Linked DNA regions of Homo sapiens. The protein of the gene in region 2 purifies or fractionates together with the protein of the main gene of each other region. This does not show direct contact. Each region holds a gene or a part of one and is shown on either strand. Other genes may lie near its edges.

Evidence for each region.
Region 1: the proteins of TRHR (region 2) and ACP2 purify together in Homo sapiens (affinity purification with mass spectrometry; 3 studies listed by BioGRID and IntAct, with this or other methods). This does not show direct contact.

What each region holds. Positions count from the first base shown.
Region 1 is NC_000011.10:47,242,164-47,245,992, forward strand, and holds part of ACP2 (lysosomal acid phosphatase isoform 1 precursor), read right to left. Parts: intron 3,672-3,829; coding exon 3,519-3,671; intron 3,410-3,518; coding exon 3,311-3,409; intron 3,260-3,310; exon of another isoform or gene 3,232-3,259; coding exon 3,142-3,231; intron 2,705-3,141; coding exon 2,572-2,704; intron 1,159-2,571; coding exon 1,076-1,158; intron 962-1,075; coding exon 855-961; intron 736-854; coding exon 560-735; intron 1-559.
Region 2 is NC_000008.11:109,119,594-109,122,163, reverse strand, and holds the end of TRHR (thyrotropin-releasing hormone receptor), read right to left. Parts: 3' UTR 599-2,570; downstream 1-598. UniProt on the Homo sapiens protein: Receptor for thyrotropin-releasing hormone (TRH). Upon ligand binding, this G-protein-coupled receptor triggers activation of the phosphatidylinositol (IP3)-calcium-protein kinase C (PKC) pathway.

The DNA.
Region 1 (3,829 bases), on a different chromosome or scaffold from region 2:
CTTTGGTAGGAGGTGACTGGTCACCAGACAAGTATGGCTTCAGGGTAGTGGAAGGTGACACAAGACTGTCTAATGTGAGTCTAAGAGAACAAGTGGTGAGGAAGCAGAGCCAGATTCTAGGCAGCTCTTTCAAGGATTCCATTCTGAGAGGGAAGAGGCTGGTGGCTGGGGAAGAGGTGGCTCTCAGAGGTCATGGATGGGCTTTTGGGAGGGAAGTGATCCAGTAGAGAAGCAGAGGCGTCAGAGCTCCTTGCAGAGATGAGGAGAGAACCCAAGTGCGGGTGGAGAGGCCACCCTAAGCGGTGGCTTCCCCCAGGAAGTAACCTGGTGGTGGGAGAACGAGCCAATTCTCTCTTGGCTCTTATTTTCTCGGTGATACAAGTGAGACATCACCCGAGGGTGAGAAGTGGGGAGAAGGTATAAAGCAGTCTGGGGTCGGGGAGGGAACTCCTAGCAAATGCAGTCAAATGGCTGGAAGTGCGACAGCTCTTGAGATGCGTGGATGTGAACTGCAGGCTGGTCTAGGGCATGACTAGCAAGGAGGCCGGTGACAGCTCACCTGTGTCTGCAGGACCGCTTGCCAGCTGGCACTCCTGCTGCCAATCCTTGGGCACGACGGGCTCTGTGAGGCGAAGGAAGTCCTGCAGTGGGCAGCGGTGAGGGCAGCCAGGCAGGCTGAGCGGCCAGGGGGCCTTGTCACTCTCGTTCCGAAAGTACATCTCCACTGAGAAATTCCTGAGGGTCGACAGGAGGCAACATGGGAGCTGCTCAGCCTGCCCATCATGGGGTCCTTGGGCTGCCCCGAGCCACCTCCCGAGGGCCCCCCTCCAGAGGACACTGCTAGCTCCACTCACCCAGAATCTTCCTGGTACAGTTCAAATATGTGGCAGGAGGCGTAGGGGGCTTGTTCACCATTGTAGACATCCAGTGCCATTTGCAGGGCAACCAGGGTAGTGTCGTGCTGCGGGGGAGAGGGGCTGCCCGTCAGCATTGTTCCCCACACCCGCAGGAACCGAACAGAGAAGAAATCCAGCTCCTTGCCTGACACAGCACGCTAGGGAGCGCAGGCACTCACCGCAGAGTAAACCAGCAGCTTGGGGAGCTGGGAGGTGGTCGCCATTAGGGTCAGGTTCTTCCTTATCTGAGCCAGCAGGACTCCTGAAGGAGAAAAGTCCCCGGTGTTGCTGGCTACAGCCACCTCTGCCTTCTAATTAGACCTATCTGTGCTCCTTTCACCCTCTGCCAGGCCTGGGCCTCATCACCTACACGGAGAACTCTTTAGTGTCATAGGGACCATGTAAGAACTCTGTGGCACCCCTCCTCTCTAAGAACTGTCAAATGTACAGAAGGAAGCAAGACAAAACAAGATATCTGCCTATATTTCAACACGGATGTAGAAACCTGCCTGTGTTTACAGAAGCACTTCAGTTTGAAACAAATGTAAACTTAAGATTGCTTCAGAGTACACAGCGGGTGGGTGCATGCCCGGGTAACTACCATATGCTCTGAAAAGTGAGATGTCAAAAAGGTGTGACAGCAGGCATGCCCTTAGGTGCTCAAATAAGGAAGCTGGCATGTGTGTTACTCTCAGCCTTCTCAAAATGGCCCCCAGTGGTTCTCTTGGGGCAGCTATTCATTTAGGAGAGGGAGGGTCTTCTGATGTGGGCGAAACTTAAGAACATGAATGGCAGGGCTGGGCGTGGTGGCTCATGTGTGTAATCCCAGCACTTTGGAAGGCTGAGGCGGGCAGATCACCAGAGGTCAGGAGTTTGAGACCAGCCTGGCCAACATAGTGAAACCCCATCTCTACTAAAAATATAAAAATTAGTTGGGCGTGGTGGCAGGCACTTGTAGTCCCAGCTACTTAGGAGGCTGAGGCGGGAGAATCGCTTGAACCTGGGAGGTGGAGGCTGCAATGAGCCGAGATCGTGCCACTCTACTATAGCCTGGGTGACAGAGCAAGACTCTGTCTCAAAATAAATAGGCTGGGTATGGCGGCTCATGCCTGTAATCCCAGCACTTTGGGAGGCCAAGGTGGGTGGATCACCTGAGGTCAGGAGTTCAAGACCAGCTTGGCCAACATGGTGAAACCCTGTTTCTACTAAAAATACAAAAATTAGCTGGGCATGGTGGCTGAGGTCAGGAGTTTGAGTCCAGCCTGGCGAACATGGTGAAACCCCGTTCCTACTAAAAATACAAAAGTTAGCCAGGCATGATGGCATGTGCCTGCAATCCCAGCTACTCAGAAGACTGAGGCAGGAGAATTGCTTGAACTCAGGAGGCAGAGGTTGTAGTGAGCCAAGATCGAGCCATTGCACTCCAGCCTGGGTGACAAGAGGGAAACTCCATCCCCCCGAAAAAAAATAACAATTTTTTTAAAAAGAATATGAATGGCAGAAAAGGAAGAGAGGTGGGGAAATTTGGTGACTAGCGGCATGAGGAGGGGGATTTGGTTTTGAAAGAGCAGGGAGTGTTTCAGTAGAGAGGGAAGTGTGTGAGAAGCCCCCACAGCAGATTTTTAACGCCTTAGGGTCCTGAGGAGTAGAGTGACACGCTGTCCTTGTCACTCACCCCCCTGAAGCCGGGCCTTCTCCGCCTGCTGGTAGATTCCGAAGAGGAAGCGGAAGCTGAAGTCCTTTAGCCGGCTGAGACGCTGCATGGTTTGGGGTGAGGCCCAGGGCGGCAGGCGCAGCCCGTGCGTTTGCTGTGTATCGCAGCAGGCAGGTTAGCGCCCCAGGCCTAGGCCAGCCTCTCCAGGGGGCAGCTCTCTTCCCTAGTGGGAAGGTGCCTGTGTGTGTGAGGGAGGGAGAGGGGAGAGAGGCAGAGGGGCTGGAACCAGTAGACATGGCAGGCGGTGTGGATGCTTCAGGGCACAGGAAAGGAAGCTCAGGCACAAAAAGTGAGACTCAGCAGAAAGGAGCTCTGGGTGGAGAGCAGCAGGGACTGCTGACAATTAATAAACCATTTCCCACTCTGAGGATCTCTGTCACCCATGAGGGAAGTTCCCGTGTTTCACAAGCACAGCCTCCCTGGACCTCCCCAGGGGCGTGACGGTATCAGGCACTGTGTTCTACCGTCCTGGTGACCTGGGCCTGCTGAGAGGGAAAAGAATGATCACAGTGGGCACCCTAGTGGGCTCACCTCACAGAAGAGTGTGTCATAGACATTCCAGACGGTCTCCAGTGTCAGGTCTGTAAGCCCTGTCTCGTTGGCCACCATGTCCAGAAATTGCTATGAAAAATGGATCAGGGTCTCAGTCCTGCTCTGGGGAAAAGACAGCGTGGTGAGCTGCACCTCTGCCCCCACTCACTGCATTCCGAGAACTCTCATTCTGATACTCTGGTGTCTGCCGGGTCTCGTTCTGCAGCTGCTCATAACGGGGACATGGGCCCAACGGGAACTTCAGCAGCTGTAGAGCGAAGCGGGGAAACAGGCAGCGGGAAAAGGAGCCTGGCATCAGCAGGCCTACGGCCAGAGCTGTCCCCTCACCACCCCAGGGAAGGGCTGGCCACTCTTACCCTGTCCTCAGTGATGGGCACAGTGTGCACAGGAATAGGCTGCCACGAGATGTTCGGGTTGAAGCGCTGCATCCCGTTGGGAGGGAAGAGTCCAGCCAGGTTGGCCTCAGCACTCATGAGAGTCCGGTCAAAGTCTGTGCTTCGCACATAAACCTGCAGCGATAGCAACACAAGTCGTGTGTGTGTGTGTGTGTGTGTGTGTGTTGGGGAAGTTTTGGTCACCCTGAAGTGGAGCCTTGTATGTATGTGTGTGTGTGTGGTGGGAAGTTTTGGTCACCCCAAAGTGGAGCCCCAGAGGAGAACCTGTTCCT
Region 2 (2,570 bases):
TTGTATGTTAAGGTCTAGAAATATACTCACAGCCCTTAGGTCCTAAGAGGGAATTTATGTTTGTTCATTTTATTCATGATCTGTGCCCTTTACTCAATTACCTCAGGTATGATATCTAACCAAAGACCCTCAGCAATTAATGAAATTGGAAGTAACAAAAGAACACAGGGAATTTTTATTAAGGAGGGCTCTTAATAACATTACTTGATTTCACCAGCAAATTTTAAACTAGCTCTTTATTTCTCATTTGGTGGTATATTAAGTTTTGATTATTTGTGGAAATATTTTATGATTGAGTATAGTGTGATAAAGAATATTTTAAAAAGTTATATCTCTTCTGTGTAAATTCAAATATCTATTGGACATTATATAGGAACATTTAATTTTAAAATGGCATTTGCTTTAGAGTTAAAACACTATGAACTGAGTTCTTATGAATTTCCCATGTGGTCTAAAACTAACAGATTTTTGAGAAATAACTTTTTAAAAATTAAAGTGAAAGAATTCAGCCCATACATTAAATTTCCAAAGATAAGAAGAGCATCTTTGTATTCTGTGTATATCATGTTAAACTAATTGTATTTTTTAACACCTGATATAATCATTCTGCAAAATCCATAACTTTTTATTAATTAGGAATTAGGTCACAGGAATACTGGTCTAATCATCAGAGAAATTACAGCTGTAGTGAAATTGTGATGAAGATAATGTTGATTGACTACCTACCAGCATACCTGAGACATAGTCGATGCTCAATGATATTAGGTCCTTTCTGTAATGAAAAAATCTCGTATATTCCAATCCCCTTTTTCACCAATTTATGAACATGTGGGTATGTGTTTATAAACACACATGTGCTTGTGTGATTTGGGGTTGGGTCACTCTGGTGCTCTATTTATATGATGCCAAGATTAATATTTATACCAGAATGAAAAGTCAGTTAACATAGATTGCTTACTGTCATGCAGGTAGGGTTTTAGGGTATTTCCTGCAAATATTTGCTTGCATTCATTTACTGTTATAGTAACAGGATAAAAATGTCTTGCTGGAGTAGATAAGGCCAATTTTCAAAAAAAAAAAAGCGCACTCTAGAATGAGGTTCTGGATAGCATAGTCTCCATGAAACAGCACGTAAAAACAAGTTTCAGAAGAATGGTATATTCTTCATTAAGAAGATGGGGAGGCATAATTATCATTAGCGATTAGGTTCTAGAAAAGTCCATAAAATAGGGATATAGGCTGGAGAGGGAAAATGACAGCCTACGGGCATGTAAAGGTATGGGTACTTTTTTGATCTACTCATTAAAAATCAATGACTACTGAACCATCACCAAGGGCAATTTTTGCCCTCGGAGATTCTGGTTGGCCAAATCTCAATAGGTAAGAGATTCAGGTAGGAACTGACAAGTGTCCTGGACAGATTCATTCACAAGTCTCCAATAAACACTGGAATAGCAGATGTCAGTCATAAATATAAAGATGACATACTGATAATATGATGAAATCAGTTTTAACTCTGCTGAAAATAAAGCCAACAGAATTTTGCATTGCTTTTAGAATCTGTAAACAAAATATCACTAGCATTTGAGAAAAACAAAAAAAGAACCTACAAACAACAAGCAGATAGGAAGGAAAGACAATTGCAGTCAAGGTAAAATCCATAGACTACAATTCTCAGTGGGAGCTCTTTATCTGGAAGAGGGATACCAGGATTTTGGCTGACTTAGAATAACAACAAAGCTTTTAAGAATGTTTCAGACTTTTCAGCTAGATTTTGCTTGAATGATTTGCTTGACATGGCTGAGTAGTTTATAAACAAGAATGTTCAAAAAGATTTTATTGCTTAAAAGCGTCAGAGAAGAAGCAAAATCTAATTATAAATACTTGCTTTGTCTTGACTATACTTTTCAAATTTAATTGTATGTTAGTTTGTATCTTCACAGTTACTTAATCTGGGCTTTTGCCTTTTTCCACCCATCATGTGGGAGGCTGGAAGAGTTGATAAGAGTTGGATTTATCTTAAAATCTACATTTCTCCTTAATTAATAATTTCAGATATTTTGAGGTTTATTTTACATTAAAGTTGAGTGATGATTATCTACCTTCTAAGATATAAAAATCATCTCAGAATTTTATAAACATTATGGCAACTTTTAAAATACAGTTAACATGTATGTCTAAAATCTTATTTTTACTCAATAAATAAAATGTTTCTGTAATATTTTTCCCTTTAATTTCAGATATTCATGAACTAGCCCTGTACTATGTTAAAATGAATACTAAATGCAAACATTTAAAAATCTGCATGTTGTCAAATTATCGAATGTATAAATAAATTAGGGAAGTTGAAAAGTGACATTTGATAAGGTTACTATGAATAATGTAAATTGATGTCTAGATTTTATTGAAACTCTATAAGTCCAGAAAATATAGTGAATTTCTTAAGTTAAATGAAAAGGGCTAAACTTTAAGTTTCCATCATTTAGCTATTTCACAGATCTGCTCCATTTTTAGTGATATTAGTTTGTAAGAAGGAAAGTCTGAATCATCCTCATGGGTTAAAGTATCTA